7 linked regions of the Homo sapiens genome follow. The protein of the gene in region 1 purifies or fractionates together with the protein of each later gene. This does not show direct contact. Each region holds a gene or a part of one and is shown in the gene's direction. Other genes may lie near its edges.

Region 1 (4,496 bases):
TGTCATTTCTCGTGAGTATCCCTGAGGCCCCAGCCTTAATTATAAGGCTACAAGTGAATGATTAGAATGGAAAGAGGGAGCTGCTTGTGGCTGGAGGTGTAGTTGGAACTGACTGGAGGGTGCAGATGACAGATTCATAGCATTTTAAAAGTGGGTAGGTAAAGCCCGAGTGGAAATTTGGCAGGATCCAAGCAAAAATTTCTGCATTACATAGTGGTTTTGTCTAAGAGTTGGGATGTCAGATGTCATTTTTCAAACTTCAGTGTTTGCCTGTAGGAAGCTTGTCTAAGACCAGAATCTTTGGCTTTGTTTGCTAGGTACTTTTCAGCTGTGATTGATCTTGGCTTGAGTTATTCATGGGCAGTTTTAGCCAGTGGGAGTTAATGTAATGGCTCTGGTACCCGGAGAGAACCCCAGATTGAGAATGCAGGACCAGACCTTAGGCTGAGCTTGGCCAATAACCTGGTGTATGTGACCTTGGGCTTCTGGACCACCATCTGCAAAAGGTGATGGTTGAACTTGATTTTAGTTTTTAAAATTCAGTTTAGAAAATTGACTTTGTCCTTTTAGTGATGTTTATTGGAGGAAATTGAGAATTATATAACATTAAAAAGGAAGAAAACCTCTCATTTCCCTACTAATGATGATTTTTAATATTTCAGTATATTTCCTTTGTCTTGTTATATATCTGTAGCCCACCTATTTCCAAAATGGACTTGAGGTGACTTCAGTATTTATGTACTGTATATATTTGTTTTCATAATTGAGGACATATTCTGTTTACGTTTTTTCATTTACCTTTACAGGGGACACTTTTTTTTTTAAATTTTTTTTTTTTTTGAGATGGAGTCTCACTCTATCACCCAGGCTTGAGTGCAGTGGCATGATCTCAGCTCACTTCAACCTCTGCCTCCTGGGTTCAAGTGATTCTCCTGCCTCAGCCTCTCAAGTAGCTAGGACTACAGGCACCTGCCACAATGCCCGGCTAATTTTTGTATTTTTATTAGAGATGGGGTTTTACCATGTTGGCCAGGCTGGTCTCGAACTCCTGATCTCAAGTGATGCACCAGCCTTGGCCTCCCAAAATACTGGGATTATAGGCATGAGTCACTGCACCCAGCCCGGACACATTTTTTTGTGATCATTTTCTTAATGTTGGAATTTTATGATATTTCCAATTTTTTGCCTGTTTTTGATCTTGAAGGTACATTCCAACTCCAAAGTTTGGTGGTCAGGCAAAATTATCCTAGGAGCACAATGAATTTGGATTTAGAGGCATGGAAAGAGCAAATTGCCAAGAAGTCAAGCTGTTTCCATCAACTCCTACTTTACAGTGTGGGATAGGGAAGTATTCGTGGGAGTTGGACATAAAAGACCTGGCTTCTGGACCTGGCTCTCCACAGAACCGCCATGTGACCCTGGCTAGGACAGTAAAATTGTCTGGGCCTTGGGGCCTTCCTTTGAAAAATGTGTGCACCCTCAGGGAATTAGGCAATTCTAATGATGGTAAATCTTTTATAAATTGTAAAGCACTGTAGGTTTCAAGGCGACATGATATTTTGCTCCCATTTGTGGAGTACCCACAAGGTACCTTGCAATATCTTGTTTAATTGCCAGTTACTCTGTGAGGTAGCTGCTGTACTCATTTTACAGCTAAAGAAAGTGAGGCTCAGAGAGATACATGGCAGAGCTTAGAATAGATCAGGGTAGTGTCTTTTGTGTCACACCACACCTCCTATTATGGGTTAGTTTTCTGTCAGTGTCTCCAGATCCTCACTGAATTTATTTATGTAATTCAACCAAGACAACTTCTTGGATCAGTGAATTTTGCATTGTTTGACATTCTTAAAACATCTAAATTGGTGTCTGATTCCCAGAGGTGGTGATAGGCATATTAGTAGTCATAATGATAATAGTAACAACAACAATAGTTGCCGTTTACTGAATACTTACTATGTGCTTTGTGTTTATATACATGAACGAATTTAATTTTTACAGGGAGGGCATGGTATCCTCATGTACCAGATTAAGAGGGTGAGACTCAGAAACATAAGTATCTTGTACTTGTCACAGTGCCTCTGCCACTAGCACATATTTGGCACACAGAACATTTGATGTATGACTGAATGAATGATGTTACTGAAGGTCACTCAGCTATCAAGTGTTGGAGCTGGAACTCAGCCCCAAAGCCTGAGTTCTTAACCTCTGTGCTTCATGCCACATAGGTAGCCCAGCTGTGTGCATCCCTCCTGGCCATGGGATGATTGTCATGTGCAGTCCAGACCGTCTTAACAGTCTCTGTTGTTCAAACATTAGCTCATCTCTTATCTCATGTGTTCTCTCCTAGTGGCCTTGTTCCCAGTGTACCAGATGACCTGGATGGCATCAACCCCAATGCTGGGTTGGGAAATGGTCGTAAGTACACAAAACCAGGCATTCTCTTGAGTAAAGAACAAGGAAAGTAGACATTGGACTGTGAGCATCTTGAGCTTTCATATCTCTGGGGCCCAGAGGCTTCCCTGAACTGGCACACCGTAGGTGCTCAGTATTTTTTGTATGTATTGATTTGCTTTCCACCTCCTTTCATAAACACTGGACTAGAGGAATTGTTGTCCTTTTGGCCATACTTCATGAGTTTCATTTGTTGCTACTAAAGCTATAGGGATTCAGTGAGCGTTTGCTGAACTGAACAACTGCACGGAGGCTGGACATTGAATTGGCAGCTAGGCCAGTGGCTGGAGGCCCAGGAGAGCTGCCATCTGGACTGTAGCGTGCCAAGGCCTTCCTGGCAGGCTGCTGGATCCTGTTTGCCGGCTGAGGCCCCGCATTCCTACACGGGCCTGCCCTTTGGAGACAAATAGCTGGTTAGACCACAGGAGACGGCTCTGAGTAAATAAGTAGCGTACTGTGTTTAAGCTGGATTATGAGGAGACTTTGCAGTTTGGGTCTAGCTAAGCATTCTTCATAATTTTTATTTCTGAAAAAAGTGAATGCTTAAGCGTCTCTGTGGGTAGTGCTAGTTTTTGCAAAATATCTCTAAGATATTTTGACTTGTTCTTTTTTTTCTCTTCTCCACAGTGCTGAGATATGTGCAAGAGGAGGGAGATTTTGGAGCAGACAGGAAAAGAGTCCCACGGTTTATTTCTGGAAAATCCCTTAACTTACAGGGCACCTTCATGTTTTCCTGAGGAACCTATTAACTTTTACTTTATTTTTACTTTTTATTTTTTTGAGACATGGTCTTGTCCTGTCACCCAGGCTGGGAGTGCAGAGGTGCGATCACGCACACTGCAGCCTTGACCTCTTGGACTCAAGCAATTCTCCATCTCAGTCTCCCTAGTATCTGGGACTACAGGCGTGTGCCACGACACCTGGCTAATTTTTGTATTTTTTGCAGGACGGTTTTGCCATGTTGCCCAGTCTGGTCTCGAATTCCTGGACTCAAGTGATCCACCTGCCTCAGCTTCCCGAAGTGCTGGGATTACAGGCATGAGCCACTGCACTCATTGGCAACTTTTACTTTAAATGCAAAATCCAACAAGTCTGATTTGAGATGGAGTCTCGCTCTGTTGCCCAGGCTGGAGTGCAGTGGTGTGATCTCGGCTCACTGCAACCTCCGCCTCGTGGGTTCAAGCAATTCTTCTGCCTCAGCCTCCCGAGTAGCTGGGATTACAGGCACGTGCCACCACACCCAGCTAATTTTTGTATTTTTAGTAGAGACAGAGTTCACCATGTTGGCCAGGCTGGTCTCGAACTTCTGACCTCAGGTGATCCACCCGCCGCAGCCTCCCAAAGTGCTGGGTTTACAGGCATGAGCCACTGTGCCTGGCCAGCCTATTTCTTAATTTAGCCGATAGTATACATTTGCTTCATGCCAGACTCTGGGCTCAGTGCTAAAATTCAACCTCAAATGTGGTTACTGTTAAGCTGAGAAGACAGACAAACCCTTATGAGAATTTGTATGGTCAGTGTCAGGAGCAAAGATGTATCAAGTGCTGTGAGAGGGGATTAAAGGGAGATTTCCTCTGGTGTGGAGGTGGGTCAGGCTAGAGTTTCCCAAGAAATTGATATTGGAGCGGAGACCTGAATAAGTCAGATGTAGGTAAGGAAAAAGGAGGGGATGAGCATCCCAGACACAGGTGAGGGCATGGCCCGTTTGAGGAACAGGAAAACAAACTAGCGTGCCCTTCACAGTCTGCCCTGCCCACTCCTTAGCCTCTTTTCTGCTAAGTGGTTTCCGAACACCATGCCCACTCCCACCTCTGTGCTTTTGCCTGGGCTGTCTCTCCTTCCTTTTGTTTCTCATCTGCCCGGTGCCTCCTTGCTCCCTCTTTAAGACTCAGCTCAAAGCTCACCACCCTTTTTGGCTCTCCCCAGGCTGACTAAGGTGTACTTTCCTCTCTCAACATTGTGTATTTCACTTCATCTCATCTCATTTCATTTATTCCTGTTGGCTACTTTTAAAGTATCGGAATCAGACTAGTTCTCACCCACCT
Region 2 (4,496 bases), on another chromosome or scaffold:
AAATCATAGTGATGAACCAGATAAGTCAGTCACGTGACTCAGGTCATCTCCACTCACTGCTGCACATGCTCTGTCAGTAGTCACTAGGTAGCTTTCAAACTGCTCTATTTTAAAGAATAAAAGTACTTAAATAATTACTTAATATATTGATTTTAATATCAGAATTAAAACAGACAATATTTACTTGTGCCTTTAATGGAATGAGCCCTCTCAATTTCTCTGTTGGACATACTGCTGTAAATGTTTTGCATCTCATATCCCTGTGTACACAGATGAGATTAGGTGAGCTGTTTGTAGCACATTTGCAGGTGATTGATTGGTTAAGATGTGAGAATGTCTCTGGTACAGAAGCCTCACACTAGTGACCTGGGCTTGAGGGATAGAATTCAGCCTCTGTCTGAGAATTATGAAGAAATAGTTTGTCACAGACCTTACTACCCATTATCGTATATGTTGATGTTTGCCCTTTAGTGCTGCCAGCCACATGCTAAGCCTTTAAGCATGAATTTCTAACCCATACCAAGGGGTCAGTCCCCTGTAGTCTAATCTTGATCCATGTTGAATGTATTGTTTTAAAAAATCCATAATTTGAAGGAAAACACCACAGCAATAACAACAGCAATAATAATGCCTTTAACAATGAAAATGAAAACAAGTTACTAGCTATCAGACACTATTCTAAGGGCCTTACATATAACTCATTTATTCCTCATAACAACAATGTGAAGTAGCTACTGTTATTTGCATCTTACAGCTCAGAAAACAAGCATGGTGAGATAAGGAAACTTTACTAAGGTCACATAACTAGTAAGTGGTGGAGCCAGCGTTGAAACTCAGGAAGTCTGTACACAACTGGGAGGGAAGGCTAATATTTGAAATGATAGACTCAACATTCAATATTTCAGTATCGATGAGCTCTAAGTTGATAGAGCTATGTGTAAAAACCCTGCATTTAATATTAAGAAATCATTGGCAGAAGAGTAAGAGAGGGCTTTGGTCAAGTAAGCTGAGTGCATAAGAAAACTCTGGCATTTGAGGTGTCCTTAGCTCCAGATGCTTTGGTAGGGCAGAGTGTATCCATGGAGGTACCATGAGCTACCATGGAGGTAGCTCAGAGAGGAAAGGGAACAGTAACAGAGGCCTGCTTGGTTTTTAAACAGTTTTGCAAAGAGTATTATTTACGTATTTATACTAAGTCTACACCAGTTTTGAGTATTTGCCTACTACAGTGTAAGCAAATGCTTACAGGAAATTAGCACACCTCTGAAAGATCTCTGCACCAAAGGAATAGAAAAGGTTGAAGAAATTATCTTAAATTCATATAGAGATTTTAATGACTTTAAATGGAATTATAATCAACTGTATTTTATCTTCTGTTATATATTCAAGTTGTATGGTTGTATATCACTTGTCCTTGTCCATTGTATTTGGGTTTCATGCTTCATGGTGTCACTTTTTTAAATAGAAAAAAATGTGAATAGTTAAAAATAAATTTTATTTGATATTTAGATAATGGTAAAAATTGAAATGATGATAAATGCTGTTTATTGCCTACTTGTGAAGGTGTCAATGTTACGTTGGTAGAGTATATATGGAATCATTTATATGATTTACAGTAAATGAAACAGAAGGTGAGGTACCACTTTCAGATGTAGTACAGTTGTCTGACTCAGATTTTAGAAATCTATTGATATTTTTAAAGCAAAACTTTTTTTAATGCTTTACATTTGAATGATGTTCTTTGTACTTGGATATTGATCCTATTTCTGATTCAGTTTTGAAAGGAATTAACATCAAGTGGACTTCATGTCACTTAACAGTGCTTTTTTGTATACATTTTTAAAGAAAATTAGTCATTTTACTTTGATTTTTGAGTTAGCAATTCACAAGCAGGTAATTAAACACTTTTAGAAGAAAAATATTGGTCTAATAATAATCTTAACTCATCTTTTTGACATAGTAAAGAAAAAGGAACTCTGCAGAAGCAAAATTTTTTAGTATGTGGCAAACAACTAAGCAACTAGATTTTTCTTGGCTTTCTTAGTATTCTTCCATAGCTTGTAATTCATTAAACATTCCTATTCAGCTTTCTATACTAATTTCATATATATATATATGTATTTTGCTTCATGAAAGCATTGCTGCTTTTCTTCTTCATCAGTAATTAGTAAACTTAGCTTCCTAACCCCTTATAACTTATGCCTTATTAACGATAGTGAACATACCAGTAAGCATTGAAATTAGTGTTACTCTGATATGTCAAACTCATTCTAGAAGTTATGCTTTTCCTTACCATTACTGTATTAGTGGACGTCCTGCAGCCTATCATTCTATTGTTCATTAAATACAGCTAATGAACCTTATTTAGAGTAATTGAAAGGGAATAATAGAAGATTTTAAGGGAATGACATTTTCTTCCAGGAGTGAACTTATAAAATATTGTTATTTGAAGGTTTTCTAGGGACTTCTTTTTAGTAAGTAAATTAGAATTAGCCCTTTCTTTATAAATTAATGCTGCTGAAATGCTTAAAATATACTTAACTTTTAAAAACATTATCTTTGATTTTATTTAAGTGTTTAATTGGCATTATCTGTGGAAGAAATGCTTTATTAACTGAGACACCACTGTGTTTCTGATATACTTATAAAAAAACTCATGAGGTTTTATTTTATTTTTCAGGTTTTGTAAATAGATATACAGGGAAATAATTAAATATAAAGAAGTAGACTATATTTAACATTAACTGGAATAGTTAACCAGTTCTATCTATACATTAGAATGTTCATCTTTTCAGACTAAGTTTACTGAAAAGATTCTTGCATTAGGTAAATTTTAGTAGATTGGACTAAGTTGAGGGAGTTAATCCCTTCTGAGCTTTTAGAATTCTAAAGCCATTGCATAGAAACTCTCTGGGAAAGACAAATGGTTAAGATATGTAGCCACAGGCTCCTGTTTGGATTTGTATTGACATCAAAAAGAAGATGATAATGATGGATCTTACATGTTTATTTGAAGGCTCTCAGAAAGAGGATACATTCTAGATTTATCCTTTATTTCAGAAGGTAGCATTAGCAAGTGGGAAGAGGAGAATGGTGAAGGAAGGCATAAGTGGGAGAAAGTGGAGAAGGTGACAGGTGGAAGGCAGAGGCAAACTGTCTTGGAAGCAGCTTTTAGCTCAAATTAAGATATCTTAAGGGGAGAATTACCCAACAAAAGAACAAACTACTTAATGCAGTCATGGGGTTTTACTTCTCTACAGTTACTTCTTTTTTAAATATAGGTTGAAGAAGGAAGTAAAAATATACGGCTAGGTTCACTAATTGGTTTGATAGTAGAAGAAGGAGAAGATTGGAAACATGTTGAAATTCCCAAAGACGTAGGTCCTCCACCACCAGTTTCAAAACCTTCAGAGCCTCGCCCCTCACCAGAACCACAGATTTCCATCCCTGTCAAGAAGGAACACATACCCGGGACACTACGGTGAGTATATATTTATTCAAAGGATGATGTAAAAAAAAAAAGTTATGGCAGTTCTTATGGAATTGTAATCATTATCATATTCGCACATCGTTGTACATCACGTAGGAAGTTGCTGTTCTCAGCACACTCAGACCTTAGAGTGTGTGTTTTTTTTTTTAACCATCATTGTTCATTCAGTAAATAAATAGTTACTGAATATCTGCTATGTTCCAGGTACTCTAAAAGCCCTGCTTGCACAATGGAAAACCAAACAGTATGTGTCCATGTTGAGGTTGAATTAGGTTTTAGAAGTCTAAAATGGTATTCAATATACCAAACTTGATACTCTGTTCCCATTTATGGAGTTCTAATTACTGTTACAGGAATTCCAAGCTCAAATGTCTATCTGATATAAAATAGAATTCATGTTTTAACATGCATTCGTTTTCAAACTAGTCTGCATTATGACTTTCCGGCACAGACTAGAGCTCAATTTTGTCTGTTCTGTAACAAAACAGATAACTTAATACACATCATTTCACTTTAGTTTTACATTGCTTTAATAGAAGAACTCTGTAAATTCTAACATTTCATTTATTTAGTATTCTATATAATTATACAACATTACTTTTTCTTTACGAGAAAAAGATCTTCATAAAGTAGACCTCTTCATTCTTAAACATTTTTTCCTTTAGTTTATCATTGTCAGAAAAGAATCCACAGTGCTTTTTTTAGGGGGGGGCGTGCGGAGGTGGGTGACGGAGTTTTGATCTCATTGTCCAGGCTGGAGTGCAATGGTGCAATCTCAGCTTACCGCAACCTCGGTCTTCTGGGTTCAAGCGATTCTCCTGCCTCAGCCTCCTGAGTAGCTGGAATTACAGGCATGTGCCACCATGCCTGGCTAATTTTTTTGTATTTTTGGTAGAGATGGAGTTTCTCCATGTTGGCCAGGCTGGTCTCGAACTCCTGACTTCATGATCCGCCTGCCTCGGCCTCCCAAAGTGCTGGGATTACAGGCGTGAGCCACTGCGCCTGG
Region 3 (4,496 bases), on another chromosome or scaffold:
TATAATTTTAATCGTTTAATTTTACGTTGCATTTTAATAGACTTCTTTAAAGGATTTATTATTTATCTTAAATTTCAACTTTAAAAATCTGTAACTAAATTTCAGTATGTGGGATTATATTCAATCATGCTTTAAATGTATTTTACTGGTAAATTTCATTGTGTTCTGAGATTATTTTGTATGGAAATAATCTGCCTGTTCCCTATTTTAACATTAGAATAGTGAAATTTATACTGTAAACCTTAGCATACATTCTGCATATTAATGCTGTTATGGTACTTTTTAAAATTCTGTGCTTCGTGATTTATTTGATTTGTTCCAAGTATCAGTTTCTTGTTCCTTTTTATCTACTGAAAAAAAGAACTAGTTTTATTATTGTATCTGATTGCAATTAGATAATGCTCATCTAGTACTAAATATTGTATATGCTTAAGCTTTTTTGTCAAAATGTTTTTTATTCCACAAAATTGTATTCCTGAAAAATATTTTTTCTATACTAATTAATAGGTAAAGACTTTTCTTTCTTATCTGTCCCAAACACTGGGATGTTAAGCAGTGTACTCTTCAACTAAGTATCTGACAGACAACCTGATATTTAATTGCTAACTAAAGTATCTGTACAGTTGCAAATTATTCTGGAAGTATAACAAAAGAGCAGTTACGTGCCATTTGAAGAATGCTTGGTGAGTAGATAGTATTGACTGGAGCATTCAGTGTTGATCTGTTTCATTAAGAAATGGGATACTTTTGATGGGAAGAAATATCTTTATTTCATTAATAACCAAAATTTCTAATCAGATACCCTAGGTTTTTATTTACTTACTCAAAAATTTCATAAAGGAGTGTTCAGCAGTGAGTTAGCCATTGTGAGAGATAAAAAACATCTGTCTGGTAGTGTGGTTGATTAAACTGGATATATTGTCCAGTTTAGCAGAAATGTTTTAGCCAAAGCCAGTGACATAGCCAATGTGTGTTGCTGTTAAAGCCCACTTTTATATCAAATAAAGGTGGAAAAACAAAACAGCAAAAGCAAAGTTAAAGAAAACCTCATAAAATCTACTTACATACAAACAGGAATTGCAGAAAGTATAGAAGTGGAAAAGAATCCCAAGCATGCATTGTTGAGGTCTGAAAAACAAATGACACATAGCAGAGAACAAGTCATTTTTTAAGTATATCCATAAGTAATAAATGATATAGAAAATATTACCCTTTGAAACACAATATTTATTGAATCGTTGAATAATACCTACCAAATTTTGAACATTTCCTAGGTGCCAGGAAGTTTATGTGTGTGTGGTGTGTGTGTATTTAATTTCTGCAACAAACTTCTAAATTAAGGTATTATTTTTACACATTGAAAAAATTTGAAGCATAGAGTTAGTGAATAACTTTGCCTCTGCGTTACACATTCCTAAGTGATAGGGCCTATAATTGAACCTTTGTCTTTTTGGCTAAAGCCAAAATTCTTTCTACTCATCTTTTTTAGTAAGTTAAAGGGTACCACTTATTTCCTTACTCTGGTTCATAAAATTTTAGAATTCAAGGGAACTTTAGAAGTCAGCTCATACAATGTATCACCCACTACTAATATCTCTGAGATGTTATTGGGTCCAACTTCTCCACAAACCCTTCCCTGGGCATAGGAAAGCCTGTTTAGCTTCCAAAAAGTGTAATAGGAAGATCTCACTTAAATTGAGCTAGTAGCTGCTTTTACTATATAACTTCTTCCCACTGGTTGCAATTCAGTCTTTAGGAGTAAGATGAAGTAAGGTTTTTCTCAATATATTAGCTAGATTTTCTCTTGTCTAAATGTTAGGACACCTCCAACTTCATATGGTTTCCTTTGCCATCCCTCACATCTCTCAGCTGGATTCAATCAGTTTTGTCAGTGCTATTCTTTGTGTTCTGATCTTGTTTCCATATTTAATTCTGCAGTTATGGTCTGAATGCAAAGTGCAGTGAAATTGTCCCTTTCCTTATTTCAAGCCATACACTTGTGTTTAAAGTCTAAAATTGTATCAACTCTTTAACAACAGTCATCTCTGCTAATTCAAAGCAAAAAGCAGAGAGAGAGAGAGAAATGTTACATGGCTTTTCAAGTTATATTTATGTAATTCAAGGTACTATTTTTTGAGATTTTGTTCTCCTTTTCTAATGTTCATAAATGGCCTTTATTAAATGATAGTGTTAGTAACACCTATTAAGTAATGATAGGTTAAGTTTCTTTTGATGTTGGTCATGGGGTTTTGTTTTATTTTAGTGTTCCTGATTAACCAATAAAAAGTTGGCAGCCTTATGTTGATTCTTAATTTGTTTTCTGAAAAATTGGTCTGGAAACCACTGATGTAGTCAACATAAACCAACATTTTTACACTTAGCTAGATTTCTCCCATTGTGTATAAACACACAGGTGATGTTTTTAAACCAGTATTTTACCATTGCCTCCTATTAAATTTCATCTCCGTGAACGTAGCTATAGTTAAAACTTGAGATCTTCTTGAATCATGATTCTGTCATCCAAGGGATTAGCTTTCCTTCCTGGCTTTTTGACATTTATAAATTCAACAAGCCAAACTCTTATGTCTCCATCCTGGCCATATACTTAATATAGCCAAGGACAAAGCCATGCACATTTATAAATAGAATGAATGTTACATAAATAAAAGATGCTGGGAGGAAAGGTGACACAAAAATAATGAAAACCATTCGGATGGGTTTTTTTTGTTTGTTTGTTTTTGGGGCCTTTTTGTTTGTTTTTGTTTTTGTTTTTTTGAGACGGAGTCTTGCTCTCTCGCCAGGCTGGAGTGCAGTGGCTCAGTCTCGGCTTACTACAACGTCTGCCTCCTGGATTCAAGCTATTCCCCTGCCTCGGCCTCCCGAGTAGCCGGGACTACAGGCACGCCCGGCTAATTTTTTGTATTTTAGTAAAGACAGGGTTTCACCATGTTGGCCAGGATGATCTTGATCTCCTGACCTCATGGTCCACTGCCTAGGCCTCTGAAAGTGCTGGGATTACAGGTGTGAGCCATGGCGCCTGGCCTTGTTTTGTTTTTTAAATTAAAGAGAAAACCATTATATCCTCCAGCAGTAAAGGAATTAGATGAAGTTTACAATATACTGGAGGATATGGATAATTCTTTTACGATGTAAAGTCAAGTAAGGATAGATGCTATGAAGAAAAATTAATCAAGGTAAAGAGACAGTGGTAGAGGACTGCTGTTTTACATTTGTTTTCAAGTGTTCATTCAGGTAGTTTTCAAATAATATTTTGAAAAGAAATAATATGAAAAACCTTTTCACCCTACATCTTATCTGCTGAGTTACCACTTTTGCCAATCCAGTAAGTAGCTATTTTTATTATTTCTTATGTATTCTTCAATGAACTTTATTTATTTATTTATTTATTTATTTATTTATTTATTTTGAGACAGAGTCTTGTTCTGTCGCCCAGGATGGGGTACAGGGGCAGGATCCCAGCTCATTGCAGCCTTGACCCGCTGGGCTTAAGCAATACTCCCACCTCAGCCTGTTGAGTAGCTGGGACTACAAGTGTGCGCCACCATGCCCAGCTAATTTTTTGTAGAGATGAGGTCTCACTATGTTGCCAAGGCTGGTCTTGAATTCCTGAGCTTAAGTGATCCTCTTTCCTCAGCCTCCCAAAGTTCTAGTATTACAGGCATGAACCACCACGCCTGGCCATGAATTTTTCTTCACCTCAAGCAAATATAAATACATATTTTGTGTCCCCTCTATGACACAAAAAAATAGCCTCTTTATCCACTATGCTACACCTTGAGAACTATCTTAGAGTGGTTAGGGAATCCCTCTTTCTGAGGTGACATTTAGCAGAGAACTTGCATTAGGTAAGGAAGCATCTTGTAGGTATCTGAGTGGAGAGTATTCTACTCAGGTGCGGTGGTTCTGAGGCAGGAATGGGATAAGTGAATTTGGAGAACACTGTGGCTGAAGGTGAGTGAGGAAAAGGTGCTTATAGGAGGAAATGAGGTTGCATAGAGATTTTATTCATTGATTTTAAGTGCTATGAGCATTCATTGGAGGATTTTGAGCAAAGCCAAAAAATTGGGTTATATTTTTAAAGAATGGCTCTGGGAATTCTTTAAAACACTGGGAACCATGAGATAAGCTAGGAAATGATTGGAATGATCTGGTTTAAGAGACATTAATGGCTTAGACTAGAGCGACAGTAGTGGCAATAGTGAAAGTTACTAGTTTCTGGCTTTAGAGAGTCAAATGTTTTGGATATGTTAAGTTTGAAGTGTCTGTTAAACGCCCAAGTGGACACATCAGGTAGGCAGTTAGATATGTAAGTCAAGCATTCAGAGGAGAGGTTTGGACTGAGGATAGTTAAATGTTAAGCATCACCAGTAGACTTAAAGGGATCTCTTGGCTAGGGAGTTAGACTGAGAAGAGATCCAAGAATTGAGAATTGGTACTTTCCACATGGAAAGCTGAGCAAAAGAGAAGGCGCCATC
Region 4 (4,496 bases), on another chromosome or scaffold:
AGTCCATGTATATAAAGGTAAAAAAATAGGTAAAACAAATCTGTGGACTAGAATTCAGAATAGTGGTTACCTTTGAGGGGTGAGGTAAATGACAGGGATGGAGAACCTGAGAAAGGCATTTGGGGTGCCAGTCATGTTCTGTATTGTGATCTGAAAGGTAATTACCCAGTTGTGAATTGTGTTCACTTTGTAAACATTCTTTGTGTTGTACCCTTAAGATTTATACACTTTATTACATGTATGTTATAGTAAATGAAAATGCTTCCCCCCTAAATCCTCTGAGCAGGCAAATGGTAATAATAATGGAAGCTACTAGTTATCAGATGTCTGCTATGCCTTGGTTTCCTCATCTATAAGACATAGAGAATATTAGAATATGCTTCATTGCCTTCTTGTGAGGAGACAGTGAGAGAAGTCACATTGGATGATTGGCAGAGTAACTAATAAACATCAGTGATTGTGGTTATGTGCCCACCACTGTTCTGGTGCTTTACATAAGTCATATCACTGGATCGGTTCTTACCGCTTTGCCATACGGTGGCATTGTTCCCATTTTTCAAATGAGGAAAATGAAGACTCTTAGGATTTAAGTCCCTTGCCAAGGTCACACAGCTAGTAAGTGGCAGAGTATGATTTCATTTCCAAGGAGTTGATGATCAGTTTCTGAGGAGATGGAAGCCATTTTATGATGGACAAATAGAGGACGGTGTAAGACAAAATGGAAAGTTGCGAATTATGGGCTGCGTTTGGGGCCAGGAAATCCGGGTGCAGGCCTGGACTTTGCCCCCATTTTTCTATGATAACAGAGAAGTAACTGGACATCTCTGGGCTTCATCTCGAATGTGAGTGTTGAGCTAGATTTTGTTCCCTTATGTGCCTTCTGGCTCTGCAATTTTGCAATTCTCCATGTTTGTCATTCCATACAGGGCATCTTCATGACCTGACTTCATGAGCTTAAACTCATTTTTCATATAAAACCCTATTCCAGCATTTTCTCAGAACTGTCCCTAAATCTCCCTATCCTATAAGCAGAAGTAATTGCTTCTGTATTGCATGATCACTGCCCTATACCAGCTGTTTACCTGTCTGTGTCCTCTATAGACTATAAGCTCCCTGAGGATAGGGATTCATTCATTTCTTTATTCTCATACGTGCTACCTGGAACATTCACACCAGCCAGAAATCTTTGTTTAATTAAATATTTTAATCAAGAGAAAGTCCTTTTTGAGTAATATGTGAGTGGACAGCCTCAGGCGGTGCTGGACCTAACGTGGAGACCTAGAGAAAAGTTTGCCTCCATGTTTTTTGTTTTATTAGAGGTCTGGGAGAAACAATAACAGAATGGCTAGATTAAAAAAAAAAAGACATTAGATGACTTTGCAGCTCCCTAGAATGTACCTGTAAAATCTAAAATTTGATCAGTGATTAAGCATCAGTGAAAATTTAAACCCTTCCCATATTGAACAACCCCACTTAATTTAATGTCATTTTATTTTATGAGATAGTTAATAAACAGGTACTGTATTTGATCTTGTGAGTGTAGTCCTCTATATTTAGCTTTTTCAGCTTTAATGGAACTATAATTTTAATCATGATTATTACTTTACATTTTAATTATAATTTGGTGTGGCTTAAGTATACATTTCTGAGAGTGATTGTGTAATGAAAACAGGAATTAGCTTTTCATTAACAAAATAATGGGAGAGTTCCTACTGCATTCTAGTCTGTGTTCAAAATCTATGGGCTGGCCTAAAAATAGAAAGAGGAGTTTAACATTTTGGTTAAAAACATGCTTCTAAATTGGCTGTGTTCACAACCCAGTCTCTTGCTCCATCTTGCTTTATCTTCTTCTCTTTCTTTTCAAAAAAATTAATAAACTTTTAAAAGAGACTTTGTGTCTGAGATTTCAAAAGGCTTTTTCAATTGTTTTTATTTTTATTTAGATAATTAGCACCATGGAGCCTCAGGTGTCAAATGGTCCGACATCCAATACAAGCAATGGACCCTCCAGCAACAACAGAAACTGTCCTTCTCCCATGCAAACAGGGGCAACCACAGATGACAGCAAAACCAACCTCATCGTCAACTATTTACCCCAGAATATGACCCAAGAAGAATTCAGGAGTCTCTTCGGGAGCATTGGTGAAATAGAATCCTGCAAACTTGTGAGAGACAAAATTACAGGTATGCACAGGATTTGAAGCTATGTTGTTCCATTAGATGTGCAGATCTTAGCAGAAATGCACATGTGTGATGGTGCACCTGAATGTCTATATCATGTACCCTGCATGCAAGATGGCATGGATACACAGTCATAAACTCACACTACATACACCACATAAGACCTTATTGTAGATTGGTACTGCTGGGGAGCAGATGAAGATTTTGGTACATCTTCATCTTCATGTAAAATGATCCTTTGATTTTGTCTCCTTTTATTCTTAATCAGCCATTCCTTCCCTTTGTTCTATAGTTTCCAGTCCCACAACTCTGCCCTCCCTATACTATACACTAGTTTTTGCTCATGTATTCTCCTCCTCTCAATATTTGCTTCATGTGTGCCCAGTGTTCTTCCATGTGCCTGAAACAAGTGTTTTAAAGGGGGCCACTGTGGATGTGTGGACAGTTGACACAACTGCCCTTGTCCCTGGGGAGAAACAGGCCCTAAGGATAGCAGATTATTCTGGAATACAACTACTCTGCAGTAGGAGGGAAATGCTTAATGAAGATCTGCATTTGAGGTATTTTGTTTTATTTTATCTGTCTGTTCGTTTTGAAGATACTCTTTGAGATGTGAGGGCATTTTTACTTGAAAGTGAATCAACACCCTATACAACTTCAATACATGAGATTTTTAGGTTCTGATTTTCTCCTAATTGACAACTGTTCATTGAGAACCAAATGTTTGCCAGACACTGACACTATAATTCTTTGGGGGAAAGTTTCCCTATAATCTTATTGGCAGTGAGAATATTTTCTTGGAATATATTAGGCTACATAATGATGGCAGTGAAGCTGCTACTCTCTGATACTCCACTCCTGAAATCATTCATATCCAACTTTGAATACTTGTCAGTTTTGAGTATTGACTTTTGTTTCCCTTTCCCTAGACAGTTTAATTAATCAGCAACTGTCCTAGAGTTTTTTTTTTTTTAAAAAGGAAGCTGCATCATTAAAATAGGGATATACATCATCTTTATTTTAAATCAGAGAATACATTCTATATGTGTGTGTGTAGATATATACATTCTTCTGTTCTCATAATTCACATGTAAATCTGTTCCCCTTATAAATTAAGTAGTTTGCAAAATCATAAAACTTAAATACCACTGCTACTTTCCAAAATACAAGTCACCTAACACTCCAGACATAATTTTCTTATTTGAAAAACTGGAAGATAATGCTTGTCTCAAAGGGCTTATTGTGAGGATTAAATGAGAGACTAGATATATTGCATCTAGCACAATGTCTACTGCACAGTGGTCCCTCAGTAAATAAATCTATTATTGTAAGTACAGCTAGTATGCTTCAAGGAAAGTGGCCAGAACAGAAAAAAAAGTATCTATCAAATTCTCCAAATAGGGCCAGGCTTTGATTATCTTGTACCAGAGCACTGGAACATCTATCCTTAAACAGAATTTCCCATACGTTCAGAAAGCCAATATTTAGATTCCTGAATAATCTTTATATAATAGGATGATAATTCAAACCAAATTAAAACCAGTTAACCATATGATTCTTCCTCCTACTCCTATATAGAAAATGTATTTTTAGTATAGCCTTACCTTCAAAATACAGACTCTGCCAGCTATATTAGTGAATATTATTAATCACCTTTTCAGAATTCCTTCAGAACTGTAGCGAGATTTTTGAGAAGTACTGATTCATGGTGTTGTTCCTTGTTTTCTAAAGACACATGTTTAAACAAGCAGATTCCTTTACTGAAAGAATGCTAATTTGGTAGTTCACCGAGTGGATTTGAATAGGAGTGACAGCTTCGAAGACAGCCTTTAATTTGGTATACAAAACCAAAATTGTCAACTTTGGTTTGTTTAGCACCCTCTCCAGCACAAGCAGAGACATACAGTAGCATCTGAGCTTAAAGAAGAAGCTTATGGGGTTGAAAGCAGAAATACAATTCAGGCATAAATTTATAATTATGCATTCTTCTTAAATTCAGGCCCAAAAAATTTTTATTTGTAGAGAGCTTATGGGAATGAGGCAGGGAAATATAGAGAGAGACCAGAGATATTTGCCCTCATTTGACAGCAGTGTTTAATAGAAGTAAAACTTGTGGTTGTAAAGAGTGCTTATTAAATTCTTCATTTACACTACCTAATTAATTCTAGCATTTTAAATTAACAGTGAAACTAGTCCCTGCTGTACCATTCCATAGATGCAGCATATTTCCTCCATCCACCCGTTGTTCAGGTTTAATTGGCTATGCTAAAAGTCAGAGAAGGAGGGAGAGATAGGGCTGTGGGGAAATGGGGAAG
Region 5 (4,496 bases), on another chromosome or scaffold:
AAGCTCAAGGTATCCTCCCACCTGGGCCTCCCAAGTAGCTGGGACTAAGGGCATGTGCCACCATGCCTTACTAATTTTAAGTGTTTTATAGAGACGGGGTCTCCCTGTGTTGCCCAGGCTGGTCTTGAACTCCTGGCCTCAAGTAATGCTCCTGCCTTGGCCTCCCAAAGTGCTAGGATTACAGGCATGAGCTACTGCTCCTGTCCAAAATAACACTTTCTACATCTGATCTACGCAAGAGTGTTAAGAAGCTATTACAGTTTCCTTGGTTGCTTCAACATATGCTTTGTCAATTTAACAGTAGAATTGGCCTACTTTTGAACAACTAAAATTTAACAAAACAATGAAACCATTTGAGAGGCCAAGTTAGGATCTTAGTGTTATTAGATCACACACACACAAAACTAGTTCTGAGTTGTATCTGGTCTGGCCCAGTATTCAAGTCACGGCAGGGAAGGAGTTAATTAACGGTCATTGCTGTGGGAGGTCACAAGCTTCAGTGCACTGGGCAATCTCCCTAAGTGTATTCATGCTAAAGGAGTAACAAGGGCTCTTCTGGGTTTCCCTTGATTTATTGCACATTACATCATGGGTTTTTGGGAAATCAGAAATTATTTTCTAAACTCTGCCACAGGTTTGCTTTGTGGTCTTGGACAAATTCTCAAACCTGTTTGATCTCAGATTTTCTTATCTTTAAGTTGAGGACAGTGACAACAATCTTCCAGGGACAAATTTGTTTTTAAAAGCTTTATTTCAGGTTTGTTTCACTGTCATCTCTGTAAATCACAAAGCAGTAACCTGCTTTGAGACAATTTTTATTTACACAACACTTTAGGATTTTAGAAATTAGCCTCAGATGAGTAAAAGTTTACAAGTTTTTTTTCTTTTTTATTATACTTTAAGTTTTAGGGTACATGTGCACAATGTGCAGGTTAGTTACATATGTATACATGTGCCATGCTGGTGTGCTGCACCCATTAACTCGTCATTTAGCATTAGGTATATCTCCTAATGCTATCCCTCCCCCCACCCCACAACAGTCCCCAGAGTGTGATGTTCCCCTTCCTGTGTCCATGTGTTCTCATTGTTCAATTCCCATCTGTGAGTGAGAACATGCGGTGTTTGGTTTTTTGTCCTTGCGATAGTTTACTGAGAATGATGGTTTCCAATTTCATCCATGTCCCTACAAAGGACATGAACTCATCATTTTTTATGGCTGCATAGTATTCCATGGTGTATATGTGCCACATTTTCTTAATCCAGTCTATCATTGTTGGACATTTGGGTTGGTTCCAAGTCTTTGCTATTGTGAATAGTGCTGCAATAAACATACGTGTGCATGTGCCTTTATAGCAGCATGATTTATAGTCCTTTGGGTATATACCCAGTAATGGGATGGCTGGGTCAAATGGTATTTCTAGTTCTAGATCCCTGAGGAATCGCCACACTGACTTCCACAATGGTTGAACTAGTTTACAGTCCCACCAACAGTGTAAAAGTGTTCCTATTTCTCCACATCCTCTCCAGCACCTGTTGTTTCCAGACTTTTTAATGATTGCCATTCTAACTGGTGTGAGATGGTATCTCATTGTGGTTTTGATTTGCATTTCTCTGATGGCCAGTGATGATGAGCATTTTTTCATTTGTCTTTTGGCTGCATAAATGTCTTCTTTTGAGAAGTGTCTGTTCATATCCTTTGCCCGCTTTTTGATGGGGTTGTTAGTTTTTTTCTTGTAAATTTGTTTGAGTTCATTGTAGATTCTGGATATTCGCCCTTTGTCAGATGAGTAGGTTGCGAAAATTTTCTCCCATTTTGTAGGTTGCCTGTTCACTCTGATGGTAGTTTCTTTTGCTGTGCAGAAGCTCTTTAGTTTAATTAGATCCCATTTGTCAATTTTGGCTTTTGTTGCCATTGCTTTTGGTGTTTTAGACATGAAGTCCTTGCCCATGCCTATGTCCTGAATGGTAATGCCTAGGTTTTCTTCTAGGGTTTTTATGGTTTTAGGTCTAACGTTTAAGTCTTTAATCCATCTTGAATTAATTTTTGTATAAGGTGTAAGGAAGGGATCCAGTTTCAGCTTTCTCCATATGGCTAGCCAGTTTTCCCAGCACCATTTATTAAATAGGGAATCCTTCCCCCATTGCTTGTTTTTCTCAGGTTTGTCAAAGATCAGATAGTTGTAGATATGCGGAGTTATTTCTGAGGGCTCTGTTCTGTTCCATTGATCTATATCTCTGTTTTGGTACCAGTACCATGCTGTTTTGGTTACTGTAGCCTTGTATTATAGTTTGAAGTCAGGTAGCATGATGCCTCCAGCTTTGTTCTTTTGGCTTAGGATTGACTTGGCGATGCGGGCTCTTTTTTGGTTCCATATGAACTTTAAAGTAGTTTTTTCCAATTTTGTGAAGAAAGTCATTGGTAGCTTGATGGGGATGGCATTGAATCTATAAATTACCTTGGAAGGAAATAGAGACACAAAAAACCCTTCAAAAAATTAATGAATCCAGGAGCTGGTTTTTTGAAAGGATCAACAAAATTGATAGACCACTAGCAAGACTAATAAAGAAAAAAAGAGAAGAATCAAATAGACGCAATAAAAAATGATAAAGGGGATATCACCACCGATCCCACAGAAATACAAACTACCATCAGAGAATACTACAAACACCTCTACGCAAATAAACTAGAAAATCTAGAAGAAATGGATAAATTCCTCGACACACTCTCCCAAGACTAAACTGGGAAGAAGTTGAATCTCTGAATAGACCAATAACAGGATCTGAAATTGTGGCAATAATCAACAGCTTACCAACCAAAAAGAGTCCAGGACCAGATGGATTCACAGCCAAATTCTACCAGAGGTACAAGGAGGAACTGGTACCATTCCTTCTGAAACTATTCCAATCAATGGAAAAAGAGGGAATCCTCCCTAACTCATTTTATGAGGCCAGCATCATCCTGATACCAAAGCCAGGCAGAGACACAACCAAAAAAGAGAGTTTTAGACCAATATCCTTGGTGAACATTGATGCAGAAATCCTCAATAAAATACTGGCAAACTGAATCCAGCAGCACATCAAAAAGCTTATCCACCATGATCAAGTGGGCTTCATCCCTGGGATGCAAGGCTGGTTCAATATACGCAAATCAATAAATGTAATCCAGCATATAAACAGAACCAAAGACAAAAACCACATGATTATCTCAATAGATGCAGAAAAGGCCTTTGACAAAATTCAACAACCCTTCATTCTAAAAACGCTCAATAAATTAGGTATTGATGGGATGTATCTCAAAATAATAAGAGCTATCTGTGACAAACCCACAGCCAATATCATACTGAATGGGCAAAAACTGGAAGCATTCCCTTTGAAACCTGGCACAAGACAGGGATGCCCTTTCTCACCACTCCTATTCAACATAGTGTTGGAAGTTGTGGCCAGGGCAATTAGGCAGGAGAAGGAAATAAAGGCTATTCAGTTAGGAAAAGAGGAAGTCAAATTGTCCCTGTTTGCAGATGACATGATTGTATATCTAGAAAACCCCATTGTCTCAGCCCCAAATCTCCTTAAGCTGATAAGCAACTTCAGCAAAGTCTCAGGATACAAAATCAATGCACAAAAATCACAAGCATTCTTATATACCAATAACAGAAAAACAGAGAGCCAAGTCATGAGTGAACTCCCATTCACAATTGCTTCAAAGAGAATAAAATACCTAGGAATCCAACTTACAAGGGACGTGAAGGACCTCTTCAAGGAGAACTACAAACCACTGCTCAATGAAATAAAAGAGGATACAAACAAATGGAAGAACATTCCATGCTCATGGATAGGAAGAATCAATATAGTGAAAATGGCCATACTGTCCAAGGTAATTTATAATTCAGTGACAAGTTTTTGTATTATATCGTCATTCTTTGTCATCTTTGATACCTTTTTCAAAATTGAGTTGACTTAAAATCTTTGTACCCTATTTTATTGGTATTTAAGTATTTTTGGTGTCTCAGGTGGCTGCGCTACATAATTATAGAAATCACTACAAGGTGGATTTCTATTTACAAATAATAAATGAAAAATACATTGCATACAATGAGATACTTCATACCTGTTAGGATGGCTGGTATTAAAAACAGAAAATAGCCAAGATGTGGAGATGTTGGAACCCTTGTGCATTACTCATGGGAATGTAAAATGGTTCAGCTGCTGTGGAAAACAATTTGGTGGTTCCTCAAAAAGTAGTTAAACATAGAATTATCATAGGTAGAGCAATTTCACTCCTAGGTATATAACCAAAACACCTTTTTTTTTTTTTTTTTTTTTTTTTGAGACAGAGTCTTGTTCTGTCACCCAGGCTGGAGTGTAGTGGCGGGATCTTGGTTCATTGCAACCTCTGCCTTCTGGTTCAAGCAATTCTCCCACCTCAGCCTTCCGAGTAGCTGGGATTACAGGCATGCGCCACCACACTTGGGTAATTTTTTGTATTTTTAGTAGAG
Region 6 (3,852 bases), on another chromosome or scaffold:
TCTGGGAGACGTGGAGGCCTCTGAAGCTGAAGACCACTTCTTCAACCCACGCCTGAGTATCTCCACGCAGTTCCTCTCAAGCCTCCAGAAGGCATCCAGGTAGAAGCTGGCCAAGCACTGCCCACCCTCTGGCTCCTCAACAGTGCCCCAGGGCAGGCTGAATGAGAATCATCCCCCCTGCTCTCCTCCCCACAGGTTCACCCATACCTTCCCTCCCCGGGCAACCCAGTGCCTTGTGAAGTCTCCAGAGGTCAAGCTCATGGACCGAGGCGGAAGCCAGCCCAGAGCAGGTACTGGCTACGCCTCCCCAGACAGGACCCACGTGAGTATTGGGCCCACCTCCGTCAGGGCACGGGGCTGGGAACCCTGAGGCCTTGTCCTCACCTCAGAGCTGTGCCTGCAGGTCCTCGCTGCAGGGAAGGCTGAAGAGACCCTGGAGGCCTGGCGCCCACCACGTGAGTGCCCCAGTCCCAGACGGACAGTCCTGGGTTTCTCGGCGAGTGGCCGGATGTCCAGCCTAGCTGTGGGGCGTGGGGGCCCTAGCCATCAGTTCTGTGTGGTGGAGTCAGTGCCATCTGCTTCCGTTACAGCTCCCTGCCTTACGAGCCTGGCGTCCTGTGTCCCTGCTTCCTCCGTGCTGCCCACAGACAGGAATCTCCCAACGCCCACATCTGCACCCACCCCAGGCCTGGCTCAGGGTGTCCATGCCCCCTCCACCTGTTCCTACATGGAGGCCACTGCCAGCTCCCGTGCCAGGATATCACGCAGCATCTCCCTCGGTGACAGTGAGGGCCCTATCGTGGCCACACTGGCCCAGCCCCTCCGTAGGCCATCGTCCGTTGGGGAGCTGGCCTCCTTGGGCCAGGAGCTTCAGGCCATCACCACCGCGACAACACCCAGTTTGGACAGTGAGGGCCAAGAGCCTGCCCTGCGTTCCTGGGGCAACCACGAGGCCCGGGCCAACCTGAGACTGACCCTGTCAAGTGCCTGTGATGGGCTCCTGCAGCCCCCCGTGGATACCCAGCCTGGCGTCACCGTCCCTGCAGTGAGCTTCCCAGCCCCTAGCCCTGTGGAAGAGAGCGCCCTGAGGCTCCACGGCTCTGCCTTTCGCCCAAGTCTCCCAGCTCCTGAGTCCCCTGGCCTTCCTGCCCACCCCAGTAACCCCCAGCTTCCAGAGGCCCGGCCTGGCATCCCTGGCGGCACTGCCTCCCTCCTGGAGCCCACCTCCGGTGAGTACAGCCCTGGAGCAAGGACTGTCCCCTAAGCTCATCCTGTGTGCTAGTTGGCTCAGCTCCAAAGATGGATACTTGACCTGGCCACAGGGACTGTGCCATTCATTCATTCGTGCATTAACTTAAATATTTAATGAGCATTACATGTTGGGCTTTGTGCTAAACCCTGGGACATGGGACATGGTGGTAAACAACACAGAGAACTGACAGCTTCAATGGGGACAATGCCCAGACTAAACCTTTAAGGAACCCGTCATATGTATCACGAAGTGACACATGCTTAGGAGGGACAGAGGAGGGCGAGGGAGTGCAGGGTGGGGACAGGGGTTGGGATTACAAACCAGAAGATAAGAAGAGGCTTCAGGGAGGAGGCTGCATTGGAGCAGAGACCTGTAGGAGTGAAGGGGAGGGAGCCTTGGGGACCCAGAGAAGTGTTCCAGACAGAAGTACAGCATGGAGTCCACCCAGTCGCTCTGGCCGCTCACACCAATGGAATGCAGCTCATCTTGCTCATTCCCTTCTCTCTACCCCAGGTGCACTTGGTCTGTTACAGGGCAGCCCTGCCCGCTGGAGTGAGCCCTGGGTGCCGGTTGAAGCCCTGCCCCCATCTCCCCTTGAGCTGAGCAGGGTGGGGAACATCTTGCACAGGCTGCAGACCACCTTCCAAGAAGCCCTCGACCTTTACCGTGTGGTGAGCTAAGCCCCAGAGTTGGGAAAGGGTTGAGGGGTCTCTTGAGACCGCCCGGCCTTGGTGGCCCCTGACAAGGCTGGCATCCCTTGCAGTTGGTCTCCAGTGGCCAGGTGGACACCGGGCAGCAGCAGGCACGGACTGAGCTGGTCTCCACCTTCCTGTGGATCCACAGCCAGCTGGAGGCTGAATGCCTGGTGGGGACTAGTGTGGCCCCAGCCCAGGCTCTGCCCAGCCCAGGACCCCCGTCCCCACCGACGCTGTACCCCCTGGCCAGCCCAGACCTGCAGGCCCTGCTGGAACACTACTCGGAGCTGCTGGTGCAGGCCGTGCGGAGGAAGGCACGGGGGCACTGAGGGCGCAGCCCCTCCACCGCAGCCCTGCTGCTTCTGAGGACTTAGGTATTTTAAGCGAATAAACTGACAGCTTTGAGGAATGGTTCCTGGTGTCTGTTTGGGCCTATCCACAAAGCCCTCTTCAAGTGGAAGTGGGGAGGGAGGGTAGAAGGTGATGCCCAGAGGACTCGTGTCTGTCAGTGGAGAGCATGGGACCAGCGCTCCCAAGAAGTTCAGGAACTGCAGCCATGACCTCAGGGCCAGTCCTCCCACACTGCCCACAGAGCTGCCACAGACCAGTGTGAGGTGCTTACCCAGTGGGGCCCATTTGTGCCCCAGGGAGGAGCCAGACCCTCTTACCTGCCCCCTGCCAGTGCCTGAGAACTCACTGGGGCTGCTGTGATCACCATGTGCCTACCTTGCCCAGCAGTCCACGCTTTGCCATATCATGGCTCAGGGCCTCTGGGCCAAGGCCACACTAGATCCCACAAAGTCCACGGTGGTGGTGTCCCCATCTGCAACAGGGGAAACTGAGGACCCATGAACAGGCTTGCCCAAGCTGGGTATGGTGGCCTGCACCTATAATCCCGGCTACTCAGGAGGCTGAGGTGGGAGGATCGCTTGAGGCCAGGAGTTTGAGACCAGCCTGGGCAACTTGGTGAAACCCCATCTCTTTATTTCATGTATTTATTTATTTATTTTTGTTTTTGAGATGGAATCTTGCTGTGTCATCCAGGCTAGAGTGCAGTGGTGCGATCTTGGCTCACTGCAACCTCCGCCTCCCGGGTTCAAGCGATTCTCCTGCCTCAGCCTCCCGAGTAGCTGGGATTACAGGCACCCACCACCATACTCAGCTGATTTTTGTATTTTTAGTAGAGACGGGGTTTTGCCATGTTGGCCAGGCTGGTCTCAAACTCCTGACCTTGGGAGATCCGCCCACCTCGGCCTCCCAAAGTGCTGGGATTACAGGCATGAGCCACCGCACCTGGCCAAAACCCCGTCTCTTTAAATAAAACAAAATAAAACAAGAAACCCAGGCAGGCTTGCCCACTGTATGATCCTGGCAGCAGGCCCAGGCCACGAGCAGCTGGGACCAATAACTGCTTCCCCTTCAGAAGTTCTACATTCCACGAGCTCCCAGCACTGCTACCAGCTCCCCCAGACAGCAGGCATCTGGCCACATGGGGTGTCTGCTAAAAAAGCCACTCTTGGCTGGGGTGTGGTGGTGCACACCTGTAGTCCCAGCTACTCAGGAGGTTGAGGCAGGAGAATCGCTCAAACCCAGGAGGCAGAGGTTTCAGTGAGCTGAGATCACACCATCATTGTACTTCAGCCTGGGTGACACAGCAAGTCTCAAAAAAAAAAAAAAAAAAAATCCTGCCAGTTCCCACCCAGGTGCCGGGCACTGTAGCAGAAGGAACATCAGGCAACGCACCTGCCCTCATGGCCACTCACCTTCTATACAGTCAAACAGATGCAGGAATTAGAGCTCTGTATAATTCTAGATAGGTTGGGGAGATCCATTGCTGGTGAAGGGTCAGGGAAGGCCTTTCGAGGTGACATTTGGGCTGAAGCTTGATAGAGGACATCTCAGGAA
Region 7 (4,496 bases), on another chromosome or scaffold:
TTGGGTAATGAGTAGAGACTGAAAGAGTTTTGAAGTGCTTGACAGAAAAAGCCCAGATTGCCTTGAAGAGATCATTGGTAGAAATAGGGACATGAAAGGCAATTGTGATGAAGACTCAGAAGAGATGAGAGCTGTAAAGAAAACTTCTATTATTTACAGAATACATATGTTGTCATGGATGGATTTTGCCAGAAATATGAATGTTTCCTCTGGTGATGTCTCAGACAGAGTTGAGAAAAGATGTTACTTGTTATAAAGTGACAGAGAACTTGGCTAAGTTACGGTCTACTGTTGGGAGAAAAGTAGAATTTGTAAGGGATGAACTCGGATATTTAGCTGAGGAGATTTCCAAGCAAAGTGCGGAAGAGACATCCTGGTTTCTCCTTGTTACTTACAGTAAAATATGAGAGGAAAGAGAGAAATGGAGCAAGGAACTGAAAAGCAAAAAAGAAAGCAAGACATGAAGCCAGGTGTGGTAGCTGACACCTGTAATCCTAGTACTTTGGAAGGTCAGGGCAGGCAGATCGCTCAAGCAATCCACCTGTGTCCACCAAAAAACTACGCTCAGGAGTTCAAGACCAGCCTGGACAACATGGCAAAACCCCATCTCTACAAAAAATACAAATAATTAGCCAAACATGGTGGCACGTGGCTGTAGTCCCAGCTACTTGGGGGGCTGAGCCCAGGAGGTCAAGGCTGCAGTGAGCCGAGATCATGCCACTGCACTCCAGCCTGGGTGACAAAGTAAGACCTTGTCTCAAAAAAAAGGAAAAAAAAATAAACCAGGACTTGATGATTTTGGAAAATTCTTAGCCTATCCAGATAGTGTGCTCCAGAGTATGGCTAGAAAACCTCTTGGTGAAGAGATTAGATATGTGACTCATGAATCCAATCAATCATCTCAGCAGAATCACTTCCAGCTTTGACTGAAAGGAACAGAAATGGGATGAAAAGAAGGAAGGTTGTTGGACTTCTGGGATCCTACTAGCAGAAGACAGACCAACAGAGCTAGTTGGCTGCAAGTTCACCTTCAAGAAAAGGACAGAATGACTCTTAAGGGTAGCTCAGAGACCAGCAAGGCCACCAAGGGCAACTCAGAGGCTGGTGGGGCTGTGGCTACCACCACAAGCCCAGACATCACAGGTCCAGATGATGGAGCTACTGTCTGTCTGCTTGGTTTCAGAGGGCAAGGCCACTGCCCCTGTGGGACACAGGGTGGGGCCCCCCTGGCTGGCTCAGAGAACAGAGCACCAGAGAATGAAGGCACAAATGATTATTTTTGGGTTTTGAAATCTAATGGATTCAGCCTGCTTGGTTGCAGACTTACTTTGGACTAGTAACTCCTTTATTCCTTTTATTTTCTCCCTTTTACAGTGGGACTTCTATGGTATGCCTATCCCACCATTTTATTTTGGAAGCAGTTTACTTGTTTTCCAGTGTCATAGGTCTGTAGATGGAGGAGAATTTTGTCCCAGTGTGGTCCATATTCAGAGTCTCACCCATATGTGATTCAGATGATGCTTAGATGAGATTTTGGGTTTAGAGTTGATGCTAGAATGTTAGGATGGAGTGAATGTGTTTTGTATATGGGAAGGACATGAATTTTGGGGGATCAGAGGGTAGGAGAATTGTGTCCACCAGAAAGATACGTTGAAATCCTAATCCCCAGTATCTGTCAACATGACCTTATTTGGAAACAGGGTTTTTGCAAATGTGAACAAGTTAAGATGAGGTTGTGCTGGATTAAGGCAGGCCCTAACCTAGTGAATGATGGGTGTCCTTCAAAGATGAGGGAAATTTAGATACAGTACGTACAGAGAAGGCTGTGTGAAGATGGAGGCAGAGATTGGAGTGATATGTCTGCAAGTGAGTGAACACCAAGCACTGGCAGCATCCACCAGAAGCTAGGAGAGAGGCATGGGACAGATTCTCCCATAGAAGCTCTGGAAGAACCAGCCCTGCTAACACCCACATTTTGGACTTCCAGCCTCCAGAACTGTGAAAGGATGAATTTTTGTTTTTTTAAAACACCTAATTTGTGGTAGTTGGTTATGGCAGCCCTAGGGAACTAATACACTATCTCTAAAAGTTTTTCTGTTAAGAAGGGTATAATAACTAATTAAAGGAGTGCCTTTCAACCTTCAAAAGAGTTTTTCAGCAACTGTTCTCAACTAATCTTCAATTATTTTGTTCTTTATTATTGTTCATGTTCGTATGTGGTATATGAAATTGGCTGTTACTAAAGTATAAGCCAATTTCACAATACAATACTAAAGTATTATATTTGTTTAGGGGAGCTTTTATTAATGCACTAAAAAATCTAAATACTTTTCTGCAATTTTTGAAATTGATTAAATCTTCACAGCACAATATTAGATTTTCAATGTGGATTTGTGGAGTTTTTTTTTTAAGAGTCAGGGTCTTGCACCATCGGCCAGGCTGGAGTGGAATGGCTTAACCACAGTTCACTGCAGCCTTGAACTCGTGGGCTCAGGTGATCTCCCGCCTCAGCCTCCCAAGTAGCAAGGACTATAGGCATGTGCCACCACACAGCTAATTTTTGTATTTTTTGGTAGAGACAGGTTCTCACTATGTTTCCCGGACTGGTCTCAGACTCCTGGGCTCAAGTGATCCTCCCACCTCAGCCTCCCAGAGTGTTGGGGTTGCAGACGTGAGCCACCCAGCCGTTTTAATAGCCTCTTGCAATAATTTTATTTTTCAATGCAGAATTCTCCCCAAAACCTAGAAGTAGAGTTTATATCAGTTTGTATTTATTACTCATAATTCAAATTGTGAGAAATTTCAACTGTGGATTCTTCTAGAAAAAAAAATTTATCATTATTTGAAATTTTTTTCATTATTTCAGTTATTAAAATATTAAAGTTGTTTACTATTTATTTAAGTTAAATTTAAATTATCCAGGTATATAGTTTTGAAGTAAACCCCATTTTTGGAATTTAGAATTTAACTGAAGACAGTTGAGGAGTGATATGTATATATATTACTTTTTCTTGAAATGACATTATTATAACAAAGATAATTTTTAAAGGAAAAATTTAATGCAACCTCAAAAATCCCTCATATTCACAACACCCTGATACAATAACTTTCTTTTTTACATTTCCAAATATATAAATATATACATGAGATACTCAGTTACCATGATTAATAATTATACACAATTCATTTTGTTAAGCATTAAATAGGTCATCTTTAAATAGTAGGCAGCTTCCTGAGAGTATTTTAAAATAAGCAAAAATTGGCTGTCATATTTTTCTAAAGTGAGATTGTTGGCTGTACAAATTCAAGTTCTTAAAATTATTGGGTTATTTTAACTTTTTACTTGTTTCTTTTTCTTTTTTCAGCACATAAATGCCCATCATGCTTATGAATCTCAGATCTCATCAATGGCAAAAGCCATGTCTCGATTAGAAGAAGAGCTGAGACATCAAGAAGATGAGAAAGCAACAGTATTAAATGACTTGTCATCTCTTAGAGAACTTTGCATTAAACTTGATTCAGGCAAAGATATTATGACCCAGCAATTGAATTCGAAAAACCTTGAGTTTGAGAGGGTAAGAAAGATAAATTGTCTTGGCACATTGTTTTATTGAGCCCTACTCTAATTATTTTACTTTAGTATTCACCACACCATGCATATACTTGTTTCCTTTTAGAGTAGTTACTTTTTTTTTTGTGATGGAGTTTTGCTCTGTCGCTTAGGCTGGTGGAGTTCAGTGGTGCGATCTCAACTCACCACAACTTCCGCCTCCTGGGTTCAACCAATTCTCCCTCAGGCATCTCAGGATGCCTCAGCATCCTGAGTAACTGGGATTGCAGGCATCTGCTAACACACCTGGCTAATTTTTGTATTTTTAGTAGAGATGGGGTTTCACCATGTTGGCCGGGCTGGTCTCAAACTCCCAACCTCACGTGATCTGCCTGCCTTGGCCTCCCAAAGTTCTGGGATACAGGCATGAGCTACTGCACCCAGCCTACAATAGTTACTTTTGACTACAGGATTTTGACAACCAGATTTGACTGCTTGATTCTTTGCAAGATTTCTCAGGCAAACGTAGTGATGAAAGTGGGTAATGTTTTGGAATAGATGGCTATCTAGGAGATTATGAATTTTCTGATTATAAATCAGCATATCCTAATACATTCTTTCTCTGTTTAAAAGTAAGACTTGAGGCCAGGTACGATAGCTTACACCCGTAATCCCAACACTTTGGGAAGTCGAGTCAGGCAGATTGCTTGAGCTCAGGAGTTTGAAACCAGCCTGGATAGCATGGCAAAACCCCGTCTCTACAAAAAATACAAAGAATTAGTCAGGCATGTGGCATGTGCCTATAGTCCCAGCTACTCGGGAGGCTGAGGCAGGGAAGGTTCACTTGAGCCCAGGATGTCGAGGCCGCAGTAAGCAGAGATTGTGCCACTGCACTCCAGCTTGGGCAACAGAGTGAGACCTTGTCTCAAAAAAAAAAAGTAAGACT

The links.
Region 2: the proteins of CDK5RAP2 (region 1) and PDHX purify together in Homo sapiens (co-immunoprecipitation; one large-scale study listed by IntAct). This does not show direct contact.
Region 3: the proteins of CDK5RAP2 (region 1) and CEP170 purify together in Homo sapiens (co-immunoprecipitation; 2 studies listed by IntAct). This does not show direct contact.
Region 4: the proteins of CDK5RAP2 (region 1) and ELAVL4 purify together in Homo sapiens (co-immunoprecipitation; one large-scale study listed by IntAct). This does not show direct contact.
Region 5: the proteins of CDK5RAP2 (region 1) and PRKAR2A purify together in Homo sapiens (affinity purification with western blotting; 2 studies listed by BioGRID and IntAct, with this or other methods). This does not show direct contact.
Region 6: the proteins of CDK5RAP2 (region 1) and WDR62 purify together in Homo sapiens (co-immunoprecipitation; one large-scale study listed by IntAct). This does not show direct contact.
Region 7: the proteins of CDK5RAP2 (region 1) and CEP135 purify together in Homo sapiens (co-immunoprecipitation; one large-scale study listed by IntAct). This does not show direct contact.

Annotation. Positions count from the first base shown.
Region 1 is NC_000009.12:120,569,893-120,574,388, reverse strand, and holds part of CDK5RAP2 (CDK5 regulatory subunit-associated protein 2), read left to right. Parts: intron 1-2,347; coding exon 2,348-2,415; intron 2,416-4,496. UniProt on the Homo sapiens protein: Potential regulator of CDK5 activity via its interaction with CDK5R1. Negative regulator of centriole disengagement (licensing) which maintains centriole engagement and cohesion. Involved in regulation of mitotic spindle orientation.
Region 2 is NC_000011.10:34,954,103-34,958,598, forward strand, and holds part of PDHX (pyruvate dehydrogenase protein X component, mitochondrial isoform 1 precursor), read left to right. Parts: intron 1-3,281; coding exon 3,282-3,481; intron 3,482-4,496.
Region 3 is NC_000001.11:243,248,349-243,252,844, reverse strand, and holds part of CEP170 (centrosomal protein of 170 kDa), read left to right. Parts: intron 1-4,496.
Region 4 is NC_000001.11:50,143,014-50,147,509, forward strand, and holds part of ELAVL4 (ELAV-like protein 4), read left to right. Parts: intron 1-1,943; coding exon 1,944-2,184; intron 2,185-4,496. UniProt on the Homo sapiens protein: RNA-binding protein that is involved in the post-transcriptional regulation of mRNAs. Plays a role in the regulation of mRNA stability, alternative splicing and translation.
Region 5 is NC_000003.12:48,841,375-48,845,870, reverse strand, and holds part of PRKAR2A (cAMP-dependent protein kinase type II-alpha regulatory subunit), read left to right. Parts: intron 1-4,496. UniProt on the Homo sapiens protein: Regulatory subunit of the cAMP-dependent protein kinases involved in cAMP signaling in cells. Type II regulatory chains mediate membrane association by binding to anchoring proteins, including the MAP2 kinase.
Region 6 is NC_000019.10:36,102,753-36,106,604, forward strand, and holds the end of WDR62 (WD repeat-containing protein 62), read left to right. Parts: coding exon 1-99; intron 100-195; coding exon 196-322; intron 323-403; coding exon 404-455; intron 456-590; coding exon 591-1,229; intron 1,230-1,765; coding exon 1,766-1,923; intron 1,924-2,015; coding exon 2,016-2,276; 3' UTR 2,277-2,356; downstream 2,357-3,852. UniProt on the Homo sapiens protein: Required for cerebral cortical development. Plays a role in neuronal proliferation and migration.
Region 7 is NC_000004.12:56,014,283-56,018,778, forward strand, and holds part of CEP135 (centrosomal protein of 135 kDa), read left to right. Parts: intron 1-3,365; coding exon 3,366-3,575; intron 3,576-4,496. UniProt on the Homo sapiens protein: Centrosomal microtubule-binding protein involved in centriole biogenesis. Acts as a scaffolding protein during early centriole biogenesis.